2 separate regions of the Homo sapiens genome follow, and region 1 is linked to region 2. Evidence: fine-mapped expression QTL. A gene starts in region 2. The other region holds a variant in brackets. All regions are shown on one strand. Distances are from middle to middle.

Evidence for each region. PIP is the estimated chance that this variant, and not a neighbour inherited with it, causes the effect.
Region 1: its variant is fine-mapped to the expression of PARVB in whole blood (TOPMed, PIP above 0.99).

What each region holds. Positions count from the first base shown.
Region 1 is chr22:44,170,000-44,175,475 of GRCh38, reverse strand. PARVB (parvin beta) reads right to left here. Exons shown (of 13, transcript NM_013327.5): 13 at 2,537-5,476. It also overlaps a transcript of PARVG not described here. Among named protein-coding and RNA genes, the nearest start is that of PARVG, 8.2 kb to the left of the region's middle. RefSeq lists enhancers at 1-706, 2,804-2,853, 2,864-3,043, 4,858-5,379. The variant C/T (reference allele first, on the strand shown) is at 2,153.
Region 2 is chr22:44,021,783-44,027,024 of GRCh38, reverse strand. PARVB (parvin beta) reads right to left here and starts at 2,723. Exons shown (of 13, transcript NM_013327.5): 1 at 2,574-2,723. The coding sequence starts at 2,685. LOC124905131 (a long non-coding RNA gene) reads left to right here and starts at 4,250. Exons shown (of 2, transcript XR_007068125.1): 1 at 4,250-5,242. RefSeq lists enhancers at 1-55, 456-565, 1,066-1,115, 1,186-1,235, 1,276-1,355 and 1 more and silencers at 2,216-2,425, 2,476-2,525, 2,596-2,715, 2,746-2,855.

The DNA.
Region 1 (5,476 bases), 150 kb before region 2:
CAACCCCAGGGCACTGTCCTTGCGGAAGGAACAGAGATGCCCGTCCCTGCGGTGGCCGGGGATTCCTGCCTGGGTAAGGATGAACAGAGGTGACCTCAGAAGGTCCCTTCCTTCTCGAGATTCTCAGATTCTGCCAGTTCTGTCACATCTGAGGGCAAGTGGCCGTGCAATGTCAGTTCCCCCAGAGACTGGCCACCAGGAAAGGAGGGGCCCTGTCCTAAGCAGAGAGCCCCCTCCCCACCACGGCCCCCTGGGGAGGTGACGGCTGAATTGGGGGGCCTTTCTGGGGACATGCAGCTCACACCAGTGCATTGGCCTGAAAGAATGGGACAGAAGCAATGTTTTTTGTTTTTGAGACCGAGTTTCCCTCTTGTTGCCTAGGCTGGAATACAATGGTGCAGTCTCAGCTTACTGAAACCTCCGCCTCCTGGGTTCAAGTGATTCTCTTGCCTCAGCCTCCCTAGTAGCTGGGATTACAGGTGCCTGGCACCACGCCCAGCTAATTTTTTTATATTTAGTAGAGATAGGGTTTCACCATGTTAGCCAGGCTGGTCTTGAACTCCTGACCTCAGGTGATCCACCTGCCTCAGTCTCCCAAAGTGCTGGGATGACAGGCATAAGCCACTGTGCCCGGACGGCAGTTATATTTGAGAACAAGTGAGAAAGGTCGGAGAATCAGGTCAGGCTAAGAGCATCTTCAGAACCATCCTATATCACCTACACTTTTCTTTTTTGTTTTTGAGGCAGAGTCTCACTCTGTTACCCAGGCTGGAGTGCAGTGGGGTGATCTCGGCTCAATGCAACCTCCGCCTCCCAGGTTCAAGTGATTCTCATGCCTTAGACTCCCGAGTAGCTGGGATTACAGGTGTGCGCCACCATGCCCAGCTAATTTTTATTTTTTGTGGGTTTTTTTTTTTGTTTGTTTGTTTTTAGCGGAGACAGGGTTTTGTCATGTTGGCCAGGCTGGTCTTGAACTCCTAGCCTCAAGTGATCAGCCCACCTCGGCCTCCCAAAGTGCTGGGATTACAGGCATGAGCCAGAGCCCACTAGGCTCAGCCCAAAACCAATTTTTATAATAGACAAAGAATTAAAGCCACCTGGATTAGTCCCTACTCCGGTGCACCTGAAGCACTCAGGTCCTGTTCCTTCTCGAAGACTGGCTTCCACCACACCATCTCCAGGCTTCAGCTGTCCCTCTCCAGACAGGTAACCACCCCCCTGCCCCACCTGCACCCTTCCTTTCTGGGAGTTCCCTCTCACTCCCCTGCCCCACCCGCACCCCTCCTTTCTGGGCATTTTCTCTCACTCCACCAGCTCAAGGGCAGGGGACGCTCTTCTCACTGGCCACTTGCCCCAGCCTTGGACAAACCAGACCCTTGGTAAACGACTGCTGAACAGAACCAATCGGAAGATCCCCAGAAGGTTCTGCACCATTGCTGGCCTTGAAAACTCGGCATTTCAGTGGAAAATATTTTATCCTCATCAATAGTAACAGTTGAGTCCTACCCAATAAAAGTGCAGGCGAAGACAGGCCAGCTCAAGGACCTGGCACTCTACTGCAGGGCTTCCCAACCTCAGCACAGTGCACAGGGGGGCCCGGTGATTCTTTGCTGGGGAGAAGGGAGCCTGTCCCGTGCACTGTGGGATGTTAAGCTGTAACCCGGGCCCCACCAGCTACCTGCCCAGAACCCAAACTGTCTCCAGACATTGCCAAAGATCCCCCAAGGGGCAGAACCTCCCTCTCTGCTGACAATGGCTGACTTTGAAAGAAGGAGGTTGAATTTGTCCCTCAGAACCCTCAGCTGGAAGGTGTGGATTACTTCGCTCCCCGCAGTCACGGTCACACAGTGACAAACCTGGACACAAACCCAGGCACTTCTCCAAAGCCCAGATTCCTTCCATCCACAGTTTATAATTTTTAGCTTATTTTTTTTTAATAGCGTGGTTGCCTTTCTCTCCAGGCTACCCATCCTGGACTAGTCACAATTTTATCATCATTTCGTAAAATTCGACGCACCTGAAACCTGCTATGACCTGTGCCAAGGAGAGTTTATGGCAGGGCCAGCACGGAGGGCAGGCCACCATCTCCGCCACACAGGGGTTCCTTGCCTTTCAGAGTCAACAGCGGTCACTTACTGGTCAGCATGCAAGG[C/T]CCAGTGACGTCACATCATGAAAAGTAAGGAGACCACCTCCATGTGTCATGCAGCCTGTGCTCCTGGCCGCTAGCTTTGTGCACGTATGGTCTGGACCCAGGCAGAGGGGCAGATGAGCCTTTATTACTCACCTGCAGCTGTGACTCTGCTGCCCTCTTCTCCTTGTGGTCCCAGCAGAAGTTTGGGGTTCCCAAAGTCCCATCCCCCACAAAGGGCTGTGAACCAGCTCTTCCCCCAGCTCCTGTCCAATTGGAAGGTCCCGGGAAGCAGCGCTGGGTGGAGTCACAACGCCCTGGCACCTGTTCCTTCGCTGGCACCATCCATGACTGCTAAATGCATGAAAGATTAAAACAGCAGCCAAACAAAGACGGTGGACAGGCCCATGCTCACGAGGTCTTTATTGGAATAAATAACAGCATACTGTGACGCCACGTGGCATTGTCCTAACCGCATCCCTGGCGGAAGAAGTGTTTGCCCGGTGTTGCAGTGAGCTCCTGAAAAGCGCTTGCTTCCTGCACTCAGCCAGGTGGGCCTGACAAACAGCATGGCCAGGGTTTTCGTGGCTTTTATATAACATCCAGAAATCCAAAGTAAACATTGCTTAAAACAATTAAGAAGACAGTAAAATACTGGCACACAAAACAGGGGGAAAGGATTCAGTTGCTTTAAAATAAAATTGCTCTTTGTCACCAAGACAATTAGGACACCACGGCCCAGCGGGACTCTGGGCTCGGTGCTTGCATAACACTGTGTGGGCGTCAAAGGGGAACTGAAGCTGCGGGAGGCTCCCCTAGCTGGTGTGGGTTGAGAGACACGTCACATGGAGAAGGAGAATCAGCAAATACCTTCCTGCCCTTGTCCGAGCGTCCACTTGGGCCTTGCAGGCCTGAGACCCCTTTGTGCTGGGACGTTTGTCCCCATGGGTGGACATACTTGGCCTTGCTTTCACTCAGTTCCTATGGACCAGGGTTCCTCTTCAAAGAACCATTCACTGAAAACGTGGTGCCGGGAGGAGGAAGGGTCCCAGAATTTCTCTGAACTAAGAACCAAGAGCAGCAGCAGACGGGGCATCTCACACCCAAGCCTCATGTCCCAGCAGCCATTCATCCCAAGCCTATAGGAATCGAGTTCACCCTGAATTCTGCCTTGGAACTGGCCCCTTGCTGCATCTGTCCAGGCCATGCTATGAATTCAGACTCAAACTGATGGTGAATGGAGAAAAATGAGGAGTCGAGCCTAATGGGGCCCTTCCCAGGTATGCAAAAGGCACACCTACACCTTTGAACCAATTGGAAAAGAATGTGGACAAAAGATCACATCCAAGCCGGGTGCGGTGGTGTGCACCTGCCGTTCCAGGGACTCAGGATACAGAAGTGGGTGGATCACTTGAGCCCAGGAGTTCAAGGCTGTAGTCTGTAGTCTGCTATGTGTGTGTCTGTGAATGACCACTGCACTCCAGCCTGGGCAACGCAGTGAGAACTTATCTCAAAAAAAAAAAAAAAAAAAATCACATCCTTTGCTGGAAACATCGCCTTTAAGGGTCCCTGTTGTGAAACACAAGTGCCCATGTAGCTTCCCCACAGATCTTATGATTCCTTTTACTGTTCGACTTGAAACCCACAAGAGTGTGACGTGGGCATGAGGATAGGCATGGGTTTACTGGTTTACTAGATGGGGGCCGCCAGGACCTCCCTGAGAAGCTGAAGCCCCCTCCCACAGTAACCGTCCTCTCCCCTCTGATGACACAGAATGGGCCAGGGCTGCTCATTTTGGCTGAAAATCACAGCTCTGTTCTTTTCTTTTTCTTTTTTCTTTCTTTTTTTTTTTTGAGACAGAGTCTCACTCTGTTGCTCAGGCTGGAGTGCAGTGGCATGATCTCAGCTCACTGCAACTTCCACCTCCTGGGTTCATGCAATTCTCCTGCCTCAGCCTCCCGAATAGCTGGGATTACAGGCATACATACCATGCATGGCTAATTTTTGTATTTTTAGTAGACATGGGGTTTCACCATGTTGGCCAGGCTGGTCTCGAACTTCTGACCCCAAGTGATCCACCTGCCTCAGCCTCCCAAAGTGCTGGGATTACAGGCGTGAGCCACCGCACCTGGCCAAGCTCTGTTCTTTTCAAATCCCAATCCCTGGGAAGGCACAGTGCCCTCTCCAGGTCCACCTGTGAGCAGGGCAAGGCTGGGCCACTCCACCAGCTCCAGGGGGCCGCGGTCCTGTACATGCCATGCAGGCAGCACAGAACGTTCCAGCCCCAGGCTTTTTGTCAGTGTGGCTTTTGAATGTCACTGCATCCCGCAAGAGACACCGTAATGCTGTTTTAATTATTTCTTTCCCCTGCTGGGAAATCACCTCCATCAAAATGGCTATTCTGAACCCATCCCCAGCCTAGCAACAGCCGGAACTGAGAGGGAATATTAAACTGTTTTCTAAAACTTCGGTGTTGGCATTCGATTTCATATCAAAACTTACTCCAAAGCTCTGATCTGCGGCAGGAAGACAAAAAGCTAACAAGATCAGAAAGGCCAGGCTCACTACGGAGAATGCTGAGAGATGCCAAGGAAGGGGGCTGCTTTGCAGCAGGTGCACCCCAGGGGGTCAGCGGGTCATCACCCTGGGAAGGAGCTGGGGGAGGGGGGGGCGCCACAGCGAGGGACTGACTGCGACCAGAGGCCAGCCCAGAAAGCATGGCCGATGGGATCCCCAGTTCTCTGCAGAGCTGGGGTGAGCGAGGGGGTGAACAACCCATAACTGAGTGAGCAGCGACTCCTTTTATAGGATACTCTAAGGGAGATGCTCTCAGGGCTACAGGGAGAGTAACATGAACACTTCATATCCTCCCGGTACAAGGCAAATTATGCCCCCCACAAATCCACATGCTGAAGTCCTAACCCCAGCACCTCTGATGTGATGGTATTTGGAGACAGGGTCTTTATGGAGGTAATCAAGATTAAATGAGGTCATATAAGTGGGCCCTAATCCAATAGGACCGCAGCCCTTCTAAAAAGAGGGGTGCAGGCTGGGCATGTCCGCTCATGCCTATAATCCCAGCACTTTGGGAGGCTGAGGTGGGTGGGTCGCTCAAGCCCAGGGGTTTGAGAACAGCCTGGGCAACATGGTGAAACCCCATCTCTACAAAAAATACAAAAATTAGATGGGCCTAGTGGTGTGCACTTGTGGTCCCCGCTACTTGGGAGGCTGAGGTGGGAGGATCAATTGAGCCTGGGAGATCAAGGCTGCAGTGAGCTGAGATGGCACCACTTTACTCCTGGGTGACACAGTGAGAACTTGTCTCAAAAAAAAAAAAAAAAATAGGCT
Region 2 (5,242 bases):
GCTCATTCTCAGACACTTCCTGCACTGCTTCCTCCAAACCCCAGGGCCCCACATTTCCTAACCCCTCTCCTCTGGAACAGGCCACGTCACTCATCCCAACCATCCCTCCCAAAAGTCCCTCCGTGCCTTGTCACACCCCTGCCTGAATCTGGAACCTCACCGATGAGCCCGCCCCTTCCCCCAGCTTCCCCCTCCTCCCTTAGAGTCCTCAACTCAGGAACATGTCGGAGCCACATCCGTTCTCCCAAATCCACCCTCAACTTTCTAACAAAGGAGGAAATGAAGCCGACGGTGCAGCAGGCAGGGTCGTGGAAACCTCCCAAGCGCCCTGTCACTCCCTGGTAGGCAACCGAGCATAGCTCTGACGGCCCAAAGTCAGGGCCAGGGGCTGCTCCACCCTGGAGTGGCAGAAGCGCATGTTGCCAAGGCAAATGGGCTTGCGGAAATACCAGCGACTCTCAATTATTCAAGCCCTCATTATCCAGTCTTCCTGACTCTTCCACTTCCCAGGAGACCACACAGAAGCCGCTAAACCCTTCCCAATCCAGCCTGTCCCTCAATTCCTGTGCCTAGATCCAAGGAGGGTTTGTGGCCCTCTGTTTGCCAGGCACCCCAACCCTGAGAACCGAGGCAGGGCGCCCAGCTCACCCCCAGCGAAAGCAGCATCAGCAGTGCCCGGCGTCCTGCTCCTCCTCCTGCCTCCACGCCCGTTCTATTCAGCACAGGATGCTTCCTGCTACCGGAATTCTTGGTGCATTTGAATTAAACCAGGCTGGGCCTGAATTTTCTAGACACACATCAATTCATACAGGCAAGGAGGAGAAGCACTGCGTACTTTGGAATTTGGGCCCAGTCCATTACTTTGGGTGTGTGTTCTTCCTATTCCGAGAGCGTAAACGGCACCTAGAAAAAGCTGCAATAGCCCAGAACATTCCGGTTCCTTGCCATTCTATGAAAGACTTTTTCCTCTGGTTCCTTCTGGCCTCCACTCAAGTGTCCCCTCCTCAGAGGCCTCCCCTGGCTCTGATCGCCCTGTTCTATGTGCTCCGGGGCACGTCATCACAGCGCCAGTTGTCTATGTATTCATTCCCCGTTCCACGAAAGCAAGCACCCCGCCCCCGCTCTTTTCTTCCTGGGGTCTAAGCAGCACCTGGCCCATGGCGGGCGCTCCACAGGCTGTGGGCTGAATTGGGAGGGGAGCGTCACTTGCGTCTATAATCGTTGCAAGCCATAAAGAGGAACCGAAATGATTTCTGGTGAGGGTGCTGATGACTGCATGGAAGAACAGTGGGGATGATAGAAGGGTGACAGCCACTAATCATGTCATTTAGGAGACGTGACCAACACCGACCAATACAAGCTACAGTGGGTCCTCCAGTGTAAGGCTTGAGAGAAGAGTGACCTATCCGCCAGGAGACCTACTGAAGGGGACAAGACCCTGCCCTCTTGGAACAGGATCACGGGTGGGAAGACACGCATCCCTGGGGGCACAGGCATCCCTGGGAGAAAATGTCTGGGGAACCAAGCGTTCCCTGCACTGTACAAAAATCCTGGGGAGCAGGTGCATGGGGGCACACACATGCCTAGAGGCAAATCTGTCATATGTCTTCCCGGGGCACACACATCCCTAGGAATACAAGAGTCCCAGGGAAGAAATGAATGGGGGACCTGCATCCCGGGGTACACTAATCCCTGGAGGCACAGGAAGAGTTCCCAGGGGATATGTCAGGCCCAGGTGGTTTAAGGAAACCGTACTGCATACCCGCTATGGGAGGGCTCCTTCCCGGGGACCCACCTGAGGCCGGCCTTTCTCCATCTGCCTTTCCACAGCAGCTCCCCTCACCTCTCACCAATCCGAAATCTCACTATAGGGCATGGTCCCGGGGCAGAACCTCCCCACCCAAGCAGAAAATTCCAGAATGTATCTCCCAGGAGGCCCTGGGCAAGCGGTACACTTAAAGACACCAGACTATCCCTTGCAACTCTAACAATCTTTAAAACGTACGAGGTTGGTAGTGTTTCGTGAGCACACGCAGTAAAAAATTTAAAAAAAAAAATTTTTAATGGGATCTCTGCAATTCTTGCTCGCAGGCCTCCCAGGCCTCAGCCCTGCACGCCCTGAGCCCCGCACCCTGCAGGGCGCCCGCGCAACACCCAGTAGTGGGTCCCCCAGGCCGTGTCTGCCCAGAGTGCCCTGCACACGTGAGCGTCACTGCTCATGGAATGAACGGTCACCCCGCGCGGCTGGCTATGCCGCTGGCCCAGGGAAGAGCTGAACACCCGGCAGGCAGAGCAGGCGCGGGCCCCGCACGGTGGCCCGAGGTCCCCGCCGCGCAGGCGCCCGCACGCGCGTTTGGCAGACTCCGGAGGCCACCGCGGCCCCACGCGCCAGGTCCCGGCCGTTGTTTACGGGTCCTGGGTCAAAGGCCTGGCCTGTCCCGAAGGTCGCGCAGCCGCGTGGGCCGGGCGGGGTGCGTGGGGGAGGGCGGGGGCGGCCTCGTGGGGCTCTAGGGCCGAGGGCGGGCACCGCCGGGCAGGTCCCCGGGGGTCGGCGGGCGCGGGCGCGCACTCACCCTCGCGCGCCCTCCGCTTCCTGGCCAGGGTGCCGCCCAGCTTGCCCAGGAACGACTCGTCCTTCTTCATCCTGCGGGGCCGCGGGGTGGGCGAGCGCGGCGCGGAGGACATGGGCCGCGCGTGGGGCCGGCGGCGGGCGCAGCGCGTGTGGAGCCGCCCGGTCGCCCCGGGGAGAGGCCGAGGGCGCGGCCCCGCCGCCGGCCCCCGCCCCGGTCCCGCCCCCGCCCCTGGCCTGGAGCGCGGCCCCGGCGTCCCGGATGCCCGAGGCCTGCTGGTCCCGGCCAGAGCCGTCCCCGTCCCGCGCCGCCGCTCAAGCTCAGAGAAGGGGCGTGGGGCCACCCCGGGAGCGGCGCAGCCTTTTCCCTACGCGTTGGAGCCCTGGGCTCTGCTCGGCTCCGCTAGTGGTGCCGGATCCAGGCGACAGCGCGACAGACACCATTGCCACGTGGGTGCAGCCTCAGGACGTCCTGAAAGCCGGAGAGAATCAGGTCACACGAACGTGGCCGGTCTGTTGTTAAGCTTCTGCCAAGAGCCAGGCCCGGGGCAGGGGGAGCCCTTCAGAACTGGGAATTGTCCCTACCCACGGGAAGCTTAGAGGATGGAGGGCAATGCGGGGCACAGGTCATTGGCCTGACCTCCAAGGGGAGTTCCAGGAGTTGTTTCTGGAAGAGGCGACGGGGAGGCCCCAGGAAATGGCTTGCAGGCCGGTACCATGAGGTGAGCAGAAGAGCAGGCCCTGGGGACAGTGTGGGGTGCCAGGGAGGGGAGAGGAGGGGAGACAGGCCTCGCATGTGTTGGAAGCAGAGGAAACGGCTTCATCCCGAGGACTGCCAGACAGGGCTATTTTTATTTTATTTTATTTTATTTTATTTTATTTTATTTTATTTTATTTTATTTTATTTTATTTTATTTTGTTTTGTTTTATTTTATTTTATTTTTTTAGACGTAGTCTTGCTTTGTTGCCCAGGCTGGAGTGCAGTGGCACAATCTCGGCTCACTGCAACCTCCACCTCCTGAGTTAAAGCGATTCTCCTGTCTCAGCCTCCTGAGTAGCTGGGATTACAGGTGCACGCCACCACGACCGGGTAATTTTTGTATTTTTAGTAGAGATGCGGTTTTGCCATGTTGGCCAGGCTGGTCTCGAACCCCTGACCTCAGGTGATCCGCCTGCCTCGGCCTCCCAAAGTGCTGGGATTATAGGTGTGAGCCACCATGCCCAGCCTAGATACCCAGGCAGGGCTTTGAGCTGTGATGTCACAGATGTTGCCTCTGGCTGATGGCTGCTCAGCAGGTGCTGGAGACAGAGAAGGCACAGGCAGGCGGACGGTGACTTAGGAGAAAAGCAAACAGATTTCTGAGATGCTCACAGCCAGAAGCCCCAGCCTTGAAGAAGTAGGAGGAGTAGGCCAGGTGCAGTGGCTCGCACCTGTAATCCCAACACTTTGGGAGGCCAAAGCAGGCAGATCACCTGAGGTCAAGAGTTCAAGACCAGCCTGGCCAACATGGTGAAACCCCATCTCTACTAAAAATACAAAAATTATCGGGGCATGGTGGTGGATGCCTGTAATCCCTGCTACTTGGGAGGCTGAGGCACAAGGATCGCTTGAACTCGGGAGGTGGAAGTTGCAGTGGGCAGAGATCATGCTACTGCACTCCAGCCTGGGTGACAGAGCGAGACTCTGTCTCCAAAAATAAAAAAAAAATAAAAAATAAAAAAAAAGAAGTAGGAGGAGTGAAGGCTGGGTGTCCTGCCAGGCCATGGTGGATCACTCAGCAGAGGACGGCACCTGGGGAGAAGTGGGTTCAGCTCTGGGTGTGTGGGTTGAGATGGTTTTTCTGTCTCCCTTTGTGCTGGCTGCCCCCCAGTCCCCCCAGTGCAGTACATGTTTCTGTTGGTCAAGTTGGTGCCAGGCCCAGTCCTCAGCCAGGGGCGTGAAGACCAAGGGCACAGAGCTTTGTCCTCCAGGAGTTTGTGGTCAAGGAGAACGTGGGCACAGGACACAGTGGCCGTGTAGCGTGGCCAGCATGGAGGAGGGACAGGGACCATGTGGATGGGGTGGGGGAGAAGTGCTGTGGGCAGAGGAGGCTTGCAGGGAAGGGACATTTGACCTGGAACAAGGATCAAATGCCCTTTTCCTTTCAGTAAAGGAGGAGAAGACCCACCAGGCAGAAGAGACAGGGAGAGGACACTGGGGTGTCTTGGGGCTGCCAGCACAAAGTTCCATGAGCTGGAGGGCTCAGAACAACAGAAACGTCTTCTCTCACAGTTTGGAGAGAAATAACAAGGTCTACGGGAATTATGAGGCAGGCACGGTGGAGGAAAACCAATTGATAAATATCATCATCTCACAAGGGTCTTTGCAGATGATCAAGTGAAGATGAAGTCACCAGAGTGGGCTGTAATCCAAGATGACCGTGTCCTTGTAATACCCCTGTGTACTGGGGATTAGGATTTCAGCAGGAGGCCAGAAATCCAAATCAAGGTGTAGGCTAGGTTCATTTCCATTTGGAGGCTGCACGGGCAAATCTGTTCCCTGCATCTCTCCAGGCTCCTGGGGTTTGCCAGCAAATCTTCCATGTTCCTCGGCCTGTAGAAGCATTGCCCCGTCTCTGCCTCCGTCTCTACTAGGCCCTGTGTGTGTGTGTGTGTGTGTGTGTGTGTGTGTGT